3 linked regions of the Homo sapiens genome follow. The protein of the gene in region 3 purifies or fractionates together with the protein of the main gene of each other region. This does not show direct contact. Each region holds a gene or a part of one and is shown on either strand. Other genes may lie near its edges.

Region 1 (3,754 bases), on a different chromosome or scaffold from region 3:
TTAAAAGGGGCTTTTTGGTGTTGGATTTGAACAAAATGCACCAACCCTTTTGTTTCTTCAAAAGCTTGGTGTAGTTCTCTTTACTATTTTAAGATTATTTAATCTTTAAAGATACAGACGCGATTAAACTCTTTCCAATTGCAGAATGTCAGATGTAATATTTATTGTAATGTAATATTTATTGAGCTCCTATTATATGCCTGACACTGTGCTAAATCCTTTATGTACATTATCTCACTTAATCCTCATTACAGCCTCTCAAAATGGGTGCTATATTATCCCCATAAGAAAACAGGCTCAGAGAGATGAACCAATTTGCCCAAGATGATATGGATAAAGGCTGAAAGCAGGATTTGACCTCAGGTTTGACTGACTCCTAGAACAAAATTTTGTCAGTATAATATAGTTCCTACTAAAAGTACGGATCTAGCCATCCAGAAGAGAGGGAATGCCAGATATTTCTAGGCCTGTCTTAATTTGCTCAAATTGGAGAGAGGAAAATGGAACCTGTTAAAAAAAAGGGGGCTTTTTGGTGTTAGATTTGAACAAAAGGCACCAACTCTTTTGTTTCTTCAAAAGCTTGGTGTATTTCTCTTTACTATTTTAAGATTATTTAATTTTTAAAGATACAGACTCGATTAAACTCTTTTCAATTGCAGAATTTCAGATGCAGTTATGGCTGAAACAAGACAGCAAGCTTCTGAGAAACTGAAGGATGGGCCTGAACAGAAAGGGAAATTATTTTCTCTCCTGAGCTCAGTCAGTCCTAGGTAGCTCTGGAGAATAGCCACTGAGGGATCACAAAGATGGGGCAGAAAGCTGTCTAAGGCAACTATCTGGTTTCATGTACATCCAACTGCTCAACTCTTAAGTCACAACCATCTGGCTTAGGCTTAGATGAAAATCACCAATTTAGTAATGACTAGAATCAGCAATGAAACCTCTTAGTCAGTCACACTTTACATACCAAATTATAAGCAAAATTATTTCTTTCTGGGGCTGTTTGTAAAAAGGACAACATTTAAGAATATGGAATCTATCCTTTACTTCTTTTGTGGGACACAATGAGTTCTTCTACAGCCCATATAGAGCCACACAAAACTTTGAAGGTTAAGGAATTAATGCAGAGAGGAGTTTAAGCTGATACTTAGGTTAACATGAGGACACTCTGTTCAGCAATGTTCATATTTGAAAGAGACAAAGCCTGAGAAAACACATTGCAACAAATCATGCAGCATTAGATTATTGGAAAGATCAAAGGATTTGACTAGGTCTATCCATGTCCACTGCCAAAATCCACGGCAAATTTATGAACTTGGTCTTTTTAATTCTCTGGGACGAAGATTTAAACTGCACTGTACTAAACCGGCAAAAATTTAATCAGCTAACAGTACTAGATGCTAAAAAAGAATTACTGCCATATGAGCTAAAGATTTTTTGTTAATTGCATAGCAGTAAAATTTGTGAACCCTGGTGCTTTGGGAGAACCAAAGTATTATTAAATTACTGTGGCCTAACACATTTATAGAAAAAAAAAAAACATGTTGGTTGTAGTAAGTTTCCAATGTCTAAGTTGAAGCTCTTTCTCTAACAGTAAATCTAGACCACAGAATGGGAATACTGAAAATTCTGGTTAAGGAACAGACTTGGTAAAAAAGATGAGGGATGTTAAGGAGCCTTCTATGCAGGACGTCACACTGAGGTGGGAAAGACAGGTTGCTTGAAATACCCTCTCATAACCTCACTTGACAGTGGCAACCTTATAAAAGGAGCCCCAAATGGCTTCCTGAAATGATTTTACACAATGTCTGACATAATAAACACACATACACAAACCTAACTTTCCCAATAACACTGCATGTCTCAATATATGAGGAGGTAGAATGCAAGAGGCAGAAATATCAAAGAAATCACTGAGAAATAGATACCTTTGGTCTTGTGTCTACAACATACATAAACTGGCTCCCTGGGTTTGTTTGGCTAATGGCCTCCAACAAGAGCTCATCATCTACACAGCGAGTGTAAAATCCAGAGAGAGGCTGGCTACAGCGGCAAATGGCAGCCTGTAAGGAAAAGGTGTGTCAGTTGAGTGATTATATTCACAAATGGTCAAAAATCTTTCTTGACCCTTGCCAGGTTCCATGAGTAGAGGGAGAGGATGAGCCAACTTAAGATAGTGTCCAAAGCAAAGAGAAATGTGACTCTAAAGTCATTCTCCACTGACATTGGGCTTAACCTCCTGCCTACCCTGGGCATGTGGCTCTAATTTCCAACCCAGTCTTGGTAAATCAGACTACAAAAAAAATCACATCATGAGTATTTCCTTAGTGAAATTCTATTCTCGATATATAATGGGCTATTTTTCTGAAACCGCCTCACTTTTTACAGTCCCAGTAATATTGCCCACATAAACCATAAGCTTGCGGAGGCAGCAGAATTCAAGATAGAGCAAAGATCTACAGCGTCTTAAGAAAACAGGGTTCACTAGTTTCAGAAGTTAATGCCAAATCAGAAGGGTGGTTTGTTTCAAGCCACTTTAACACAAAAACAACGTAACTATTTAACATGAATGTCTGGTAATGATTAGTTCATGAAATTCGTTACACTTTGATGTGGCTTTTAAGGGGTCAACTCACTTCAATAATATGACACCCAATTGCATTACTATACTCCTTAGCACTTGAACGGTTGCCCACCTGACAACTTGCCTATTTGTCTAACCCCAGATCTCAGAGTGATTACAAGAGGTGATAAATATTATCACTTCCTACATAAGTAAGGGGATTGAAACACAGAGGAGTCAAGTGCTTTCTTACTACTACCTGAAATTATATGAAAAGCACTAAGAAAGTATCAAGGATATCTGTATTCTACTGGGAGGCCACAGCCCCCAAAAAATCCTGTATACAACTAATTTTCTGTCATTTCACAACTTTCCACAAAGCTGGATCCCACAGAAAAGGAAAAAAAGAAAAAGAAATAAACATACTAAAATGACACTTAACATCTGCATAACATTTTACAATTTACAAAGTACATTGTACATATTATTCCTACTGAGATCCTCTCAAAAACCTTCAGAAGTATGAAAGTCCAGAGAAGTTAAGTAACTTGCCTGAGGTCACACAGCTACTAAGTGGCAGCATGAAACTTAAAACAGGTCTTCCAGAGCCATGTTTAATTATCATTAGAGAAATCTGCTTAACTTACATTGTTCTCTTTGTAGAGGTAGGAGAGCACAGGGACACGTTCTTTACTTCTGAACTTTGAACTTCCAACCACCGTTCCCAAGGTAACAGATTTAGGAACCACTATTTCAGGAGGGTAGGTGCTGCATATCTAAAAGAAAATAAGCACAATATATATAAATATATATTTATACATTTATATATAACTGTCTCTTTGGAAATACGTATTTTGGTAACCACTAAAAGCTGATAAACTTGAGAAAATATGTCAGTCTTTTCATAGAGTAAGTCACACCTAAAATGTCAACACCTCCACCCCAAGACTAGTGTTTTAAAGGCCGTCCAGATATGAATACTAGGAACCTAGTATGTAGTTTATGAAAGAGTACATCATATTTCCTCCTCCTCTACCTGTCTGCTTCATATTTGTGTCCGTTCATATTAATTCACTTGTTTACAGTTATTGTTTTTGCTCTGATATGCACACGTAGGAATTTCAACATGGGGTTTTATGTGTGTTTCTGTCTATGATTTTTGTTTTTCTAATTCTAAAAGTACATTTTGTT
Region 2 (3,754 bases), on a different chromosome or scaffold from region 3:
ATTTTTTTTAAAACCCTCCATCTACATTCTTAAAAACTAGATGGAGGGCTTAAAAAAACAAAAAAACTCTACTGACCTCTGGGTGTAGAGAAACACAATTCAAATTATTTTTTTAATCTCATTGTGGTCTTTTTGGATAATATAACCATTTAAATTTTTAAGGCAACTTAACCTAACTTAACTCTGGTCCATTTCCTTCATTTCCATGAAATTCTGCGTACTGCAGGTGGGATGGGGGACTCCCACTGCAGTCTCAAATACCGATAATATGTTACCAGACACTGTGCTCTACTATACTTGATGTCCTTAAAGAAAGCTTAATAACAATATAGAAGTAGGTATCACAAGGCTTTTTTTTAAAAAAAAATAAAGATGCTCTGAATAAAAGCTATAACATGACATTAAAATTCAACTTGGTTAAAGTAATTCTACAATGGACTGAAGGGAAGTGATAATTATTTTTTAAATATGAAACTAAAAAACAATGTAGGCCACTTTGATGAAGATGGTATCATACATATACTGTATTCAGGTATTAGATAATGTGTGCTGGGGAAAATATAAGATATGGTCTCTACTATCAAGATGCTCCCATTTGCAGAGATGTTATAAGTACTATTATAAAGCTATTTAAAATGTTTTATGAGAGTAGGGAGGAGCAAGTGACTAACTTGCCTTAGAAGTCCAAAAAGGCTTCCTAAAGTAAAGTAAGTATCCCTGAGTCTTGAAGAGTAAGTAGGAATTCACTGAGCAGAAAACAAGGAAACAAGTATTCTTAGTCATGGATGCATGAAACAGCATGATGCTTTCAGGGAGATAAAAACAACTGTGTGATTTTATGGGAATGTTATAGAAGATAAAATTATGCAAGAATTGGATTATGAAGGGTCTCCTACATTATTCCAAGAAGACAAACTCCATCTGAGCAAACAGGAAGTCACTGAAGGAAGTTTTACACAATTGTTGTACTTTATGAAAATTACACTTATATACAAAAAGCTGGAGAGTAGCCAGGCCAGAGGCAGATAAGAGTTTAAGATCTTGACCATAAATGTTTGAGATTCAGAGACAGCAGAACCTGGACATTTGATTAAGCTATAAGGGATGAGAAAGATGAAGGATTTTAGGATAAATCTCAAGTTTGGTAGCTGATGGTAACTTTAACCTAGGCAGGAAATTAAAAAAGGAGAGCAAGTTTTAGAGGAAAATGATTCCAGTCTGGACATACTAGGTGATCTGGTTTGGATCTGGGTTTTGGATTTGTGTCCCCACTTAAATCTAACATCAAAGTGTAATCCCAATATTGGAGGAGGAGCCTGGTGGGATGTGATTAGATGCCTCCCCTTCCACCACGATTCTGTTTCCTGAGGCCTCTCCAGCCCTGCAAAGCTGTGAGTCAATTAAACTTCTTTCCTTTATAAATTATCCTGTCTTAGGTATAGCAGCGTGAGAATGGACTAATAAATACAAGGGGCCTGGTGGGAGATGACTGGATCATGGGGGCACATATCCCCCTTGCTGTTTTCATGTCAGTAAGTGAGTTCTCATGAGATCTGGTTGTTTAAAAGTGTGCCGCACCTCCCCCTTCACTCTTTTCCTCTTTCTCCATCCAAGTAAGATGTGTCTGTTTCCCCTTCACCTTCCATCATGAGTGGAAGTTTCCTGAGGTTTCCCCAGCCATACTTCCTGTACAGCCTGTGGGACTGTGAGCCCATTAAGCCTCTTTTCTTTAAAAATTACCCAGTCTCGGCCGGGTGCGGTGGCTCACGCCTGTGATCCCAGCACCTTGGGAAGCCAAAGTGGGCGGATCACGAGGTCAGGAGTTTGAAACCAGCCTGGCTGACATGGTGAAACACCGTCTCTACTAAAAATACAAAAATTAGCCGGGTGCAGTGGCACCCGCCTATAGTCCCAGCTACTCGGAAGGCTGAGGCAGAAGAATCGCTTGAACCCAGGAGGTGGATGTTGCAGTGAGCCTTGATCATACCACTGCACTCCAGCCTAGTGACAGAGCGAGACTCTGTTTCAAAAAAAAAAGAAAAGAAAAGAAAAATTACCCAGTCTCAGGTAGTTTTTTATAGCAATGCAAGAATGGACTAATACACTAGATTTCAGCAGTACATGGGGCATCCCGCAGGCGACACTAAGTAGGCAATTGGAATTATGGGTCTACAGCACGGGAGAGCTGTAACTACTAAACCATGATCTATTAAAGAAAGTAATTCAAGTAGTGAGAATGTCCAGGGAGAATATATAAAGAAGGGAATCTGGCCTCAGAACAAACCCTGGAAGCAGTAACTTTAGCTAGTGGCCAAGAAATCAGTGACAAAAACCAAGAAGAAACAGAGAAGGATCATAAATGTGTTTTCAAGAAAGATGAAATCGAAAAGTCAGTTGTGCCTAACGCTAATCACAGTTAAGCAAGTCAAGACTAAAAGTATTCTCTGAACTTTAAGTAAGATACAGCATTTATTACGTTGGTAATGCTGGTAAGAGCAACACTGAATGAAATAGTTAGGGTAGAAGTCAGACTGAAAAGAGTTGAAAATAAATTGGAGGTAGTGGGGGAAGTAGTATGAATGTACCGTAAACCTATCCAAATGACTTAGCTGTGAGGAAGAGTTCTAATGCTAAAAGACAAAGAGTTGAAGAGGAAGACGTACCCATATGTGTGATTATTATTTTTAAAACAGGAGAAATTTAAGCATTTAAGTGAGGGCAGGAACCAGAGTAGAGAATGGGATTTGATGGAGTTAGGAGTCAGGAGGGTGATCAGAATCAGAGCCTAAATGGAAGCTCAGCTTTGATATTTTTTGATATAAACGGAGAGCTCTATCATCCTCTGTGGTGACAGAATAAAAGTAAGTTTGCAGATATGAGGGAAGAAATTTCTGCCTCATGACTGTTTTCTCTGTGATGCAGAAGGAAGCTTTCTGTGAAGTTTTGTTGATGATCATAAAATTTTTAAGTGTGCAAAATTTCATATAACCATGCTAGATTGTGTATATTGCATAATTTTAATCCTTTACTTTGCAATACTTTGTAGTTGCTATTGCAAACTGAGTTTTCAAAGAATCTTTTGAATTCCTAGTTTTATAGAAAATGAAACTAAACATCACTAGTCCACTGTTTAATCCTCCTACAGCAAATATGAGAACAATGAATGTGTGACATTCTGTAAGTTTAGATGAAGAAACAGATCAATGTAGATGACAAGTTTAATGGCAACTCTAAACTAAATGAAATTTAAAAAGCAAAATTATTCTTCAGTAAGTTTTTTTTAAAGCAGAAGAGTCATAGACTACACTGGGGATATGGAATTTGAAATAGTTGAGTATAATTGAAATTTTTACAACCCAATAAAAAGGAAAATGGTACCTAATAATTGAATAAATTATTACTATGTTAGTAAAATTATATACAGTAATTATCACATTCACCAAAAACCTACTACATGTCTTCTATATAACAGTTAAGAACGTTTTGTCTGTATATAAAATGTTATATAACTTCATTTTAACTAATATTGTTATTATTTTAGTAAAAAGTAATTAACGGTCAAACTTTGCCTTTGTTTTCTAAGCTGCATATCTTCCATCACTCCTTGTATGTGGTCCACATTTTCTTTATTTTCAATGGTTACATCCTTTCCATAGGCCCAGGATGCCTGATTGGAGATCTGATCCAGGAGACCTTGACCTTTTTCACGCAAACCTTGCAATCCCACATCTAAAACAAAAGTTACTAGATTTAA
Region 3 (3,754 bases):
CTTCAATTCTTGCTGGTCTGTGGCTTCTAACCTCTTCTCCTCCTATAAGCCTAAATGCTGAAATGGAAGCTAAGCTGGGTTCCATGCACAGAGTGAGAAGGATGGTTCAGCTCACGGTGACCTCTCTTTAGAGCTTCCCAAGGACCAGTACTATGTCTTGGAAACACAGTGAGGTGTCACTTAATGACGGGGACACATTCTGAGAAATGCTTCATTAGGCAATTTCATCATTTTACAAAATCATAGATTGTAATTACACAAACGTGGATGGTCTAGTCTACTCCACACCTAGGCTATATGGTATGGCCCATTGCTCCTGGGCTACACACCGGTACAGCATTCCTGTAATGGGTACTGTAGGCTATTGTAACACAGTGCTAAGTATTCGTGTATCTAAACATAGAAAAGGTAGTGGTTGCACCACAACACTAAGCTGAAAAATAGGAATTTTTCAGCTCTGTTATAATCTTATGGGACCACCGTTGTATATGTGGTCTGTCGTTGACTGAAATGTCTTCATGCAGTGCCTGACTGGGGCTATTTATAAATACTGTTTACTGGGGGCAAATTTATGAGTCAGAGCAAAGCAGTTTCCTCCACTGTCTTACCAAGGTCAATGACTTCTACAACACTCCACATGTGCTTTTTTGTTTGTTTTTGGGTTTTTTTGTTTTGTTTTGTTTTGTTTTGTTTTGAGACAGGGTCTCACTCTGTCGCCCAGGCTGGACTGCAGTGGCATGATCACAGCTCACTGCAGCCTCGACTTCCCAGGCTCAAGCCATCCTCCCACCTCAGCCTCCCCAGTAGCTGGGACTATGGGCATGTGCCATCACACATTTTTGTTGTTGTTTTGAGACAGGGTCTCACTGTGTCACCCAGACTGGAGTGCAGTGGTGCAATCTTGGCTCATCACAACCTCTGCCTCCCTGCAACCTCCGCCTCCTAGGTTCAAGGGATTCTCCTGCCTCAGCCTCCCGAGTACCTGGGATTACAGCTACTACTACCACCCAGCTACTTTTTGTATTTATATTAGAGACGAGGTTTCACCATGTTGGCCTGGCTGGTATTGAACTCCTGACCTCAAATTATCCACCTGCCCGGCCTCCCAAAGTGCTGGGATTACAGGCGTGAGCCACTGTGCCCAGCCACATATGTTTTTAAAGAATCCCAAATTTTAAGACATAAGACCTGTTCCCAACTTAGACGATGCCTGCGTGGAACAGAGAAGAGACATCTCAACTTCCGGGAATGGGGGTGGGGGGATATGAGCTGCCTCTGGAAGGAGGTAAGCCTCTACTCATCCCTACTCCCAAGGGTAGAAAAGTAAAAAGTTAAAATTACCTCTGTGTTACTATTAGACTGCAGCTGTGAGATCCTGCGTGGCTCTCCTCCCCTATGGAGCTGCTTTCTGCTGGCCAGGCATGACCCAAGAGCGAGATGGGAAGGAAGCAGAGCAGCCGTTGCTGCTTCTCCTTTTTGTGCTTCCTTTTCCCAGGTGGCTGGGGGGCGGGGCTGGTGTCACGGCCCCTCCCTCAGCCCTAGGGCGCCTCAGAGCAGTCATCTTGCTGGGCTTGCCACAGAGAGGTCCCCGGCTCTGCAGGTCCTGGCAGAGCAAGGCCCAGTGACAGCTCCATTTTTTAGCAACTCAGACTTGGGTGCCTGAAGGAGGGAGCACGAGCTCGGAGCTGTGTCCAAGCGCAGCCGCCTTCTCTCTTCCCTCAGGATCCTCTGAGCTCCTCGCAGAGAATTCTGACCTCTTCCTTTCAGTACATGCCTCAAGGTTTTTCTGGTGGCTAGAGATTCTCTGATTTGCTTGGAATCACACATGGTTTGTTGTTGTTGTTGTTGTTGTTTTGTTTTGTTTTCTATTTGAGACCGAGTCTTGCTCTGTCGCCCAGGCTGGACAGCAGCCTCCGCCTCCAGGGCTCAAGCGATCCTCCCTCCTCAACCTCCTAAGCAAGTGGGATTATAGGCAGGTGCCACCATGCCCAGCTGATTTTTGTATTTTTCATAAAGACAGGTTTCACCATGATGGCCAGGCTGCACATGTGTTCTTTTAAAAGCTGCCTATGGCCAGGCGTGGTGGCTCAGGCCTGTAATCCCAACATTTTGGGGGGCTGAGGTGGGTGGATCACGAGGTCAGGAGTTCGAGACCAGCCTGGCTAACATGGTGAAACCCCGTCTCTACTAAAAATACAAAAATTAGCTGGGCGTGGTGGCACCTACCTGTAGGCCCAGCTATTTGGGAGGCTGAGGCAGGAGAATGGCATGAACCCGGGAGGCGGAGGTTGCAGTGAGCCCAGATCACACCACTGCACTCCAGCCTTGGTGACAGAGCGAGACTCTGCCTCAAAACAAAAACAAAAACAAAAAACAAAAAAAGCTGTCTACATATGATGAAAACATTCTTTAAAAGGTATGTATGATGCAGATCAACCTTTAAAATTGTGTTAATGTAGTGATTAAAGTTACCGTTCAATTTTTTCTTGAATGGTGTCACTGTGTTTTTCCCAGTAAAAATGACACCTCTAGAAAATGTAATTTTTAAAAAATTGGCTAGTCGCCGGGCATGGGGGCTCATGCCTGTAATCCCAGCACTTTGGGAGGCCAAGGCAGGAGGATCGCTCAAGCTCAGGAGTTCAAGACCAGCCTGGCCAATATGGTGAAACCACGTCTCTACAAAAAATAATAAATTAACCAGGCATGGTGATGTGTGCCTGTAGTTCCAGGTACTTGGGAGATTGAGGCCCAAGAACTGCATGAGCCCAGGAGGTGGAGGCTGCAGTGAGCTGAGATCACAGCACTGCACTCCAGCCTAGAAGACAGAGTGAGACTCTGTCTCTCTCCTATTTTTTTTTTTTAATTGAGATGGAGTCTCGCTCTGGCGCCCAGGCTGGAGTGCAATGGCACAATCTCGGCTCACTGCAACCTCCGCCTCCTAGGTTCAAGCAATTCTCCCACCTCAGCCTCCCGAGTACCTGGGATTACAGGCACGTGCTACCATGCCTGGATAATTTTTTTATTTTCAGTAGAGACAGGGTTTTGCCATGTTGGCCAGGCTGGTCTCCAGCTTCTAATCTCGAGTGATCTGCCCGCCTCGGCCTCCCAAAGAGCTGGGATTACAGGTGTGAGCCACTGCACCCAGCCGAGACTCTGTCTCAAAAAAAAAAAGAAAAAAAGAAAAAAAATTGACTAGTCAGAAACCACTGATTCAGTAGGTATTGAATTTGGATATGGAGTCACAGTGATTTAGCTCTTATAACCAGTAATCTTTGTGCTGTTTTCTGCTTTCCCATGCATTATTTCATTAAAATATCAAGACTCAAGTTGGATGTTATGACTCTTCCATTTTACAAGAAAAGAAGCAGGCTCGGTTGGAAGGCCGAGGCGGGCAGATCACAAGGTCAAGAAATCGAGACCATCCTGGCCAACATGGTGAAACCCCATCTCTACTAAAAATACAAAAATTAGCTGGGCATGGTGGCGCACACTTGTAGTCCCAGCTACTCGGGTGGCTGAGGCAGGAGAATCGCTTGAACCCGGAAGGCGGAGGTTGCAGTGAGCTGAGATCGCGCCACTGCACTCCAGCCTGGTGACAGAGCAAGACTCTGTCTCAAAAAAAAAAAAAAAGAAGCAGGCTGGGACAGGGTGAATCATTGACTCATGATCTTGCTGCGTTTTATAATTCATCTCTTTCTCTTTTACCATGTCATGCTACTCACACAGAAAGTGCCTTGTAAATGGCAAACACCAG

What was found.
Region 1: the proteins of ARL11 (region 3) and MTMR8 purify together in Homo sapiens (affinity purification with mass spectrometry; 2 studies listed by BioGRID and IntAct, with this or other methods). This does not show direct contact.
Region 2: the proteins of ARL11 (region 3) and SESTD1 purify together in Homo sapiens (affinity purification with mass spectrometry; 2 studies listed by BioGRID and IntAct, with this or other methods). This does not show direct contact.

The regions. Positions count from the first base shown.
Region 1 is NC_000023.11:64,346,732-64,350,485, forward strand, and holds part of MTMR8 (phosphatidylinositol-3,5-bisphosphate 3-phosphatase MTMR8), read right to left. Parts: intron 3,340-3,754; coding exon 3,211-3,339; intron 2,064-3,210; coding exon 1,929-2,063; intron 1-1,928. UniProt on the Homo sapiens protein: Lipid phosphatase that specifically dephosphorylates the D-3 position of phosphatidylinositol 3-phosphate and phosphatidylinositol 3,5-bisphosphate, generating phosphatidylinositol and phosphatidylinositol 5-phosphate.
Region 2 is NC_000002.12:179,118,201-179,121,954, forward strand, and holds part of SESTD1 (SEC14 domain and spectrin repeat-containing protein 1), read right to left. Parts: intron 3,730-3,754; coding exon 3,570-3,729; intron 1-3,569. UniProt on the Homo sapiens protein: May act as the primary docking protein directing membrane turnover and assembly of the transient receptor potential channels TRPC4 and TRPC5.
Region 3 is NC_000013.11:49,626,203-49,629,956, reverse strand, and holds the start of ARL11 (ADP-ribosylation factor-like protein 11), read right to left. Parts: upstream 1,451-3,754; 5' UTR 1,342-1,450; intron 1-1,341.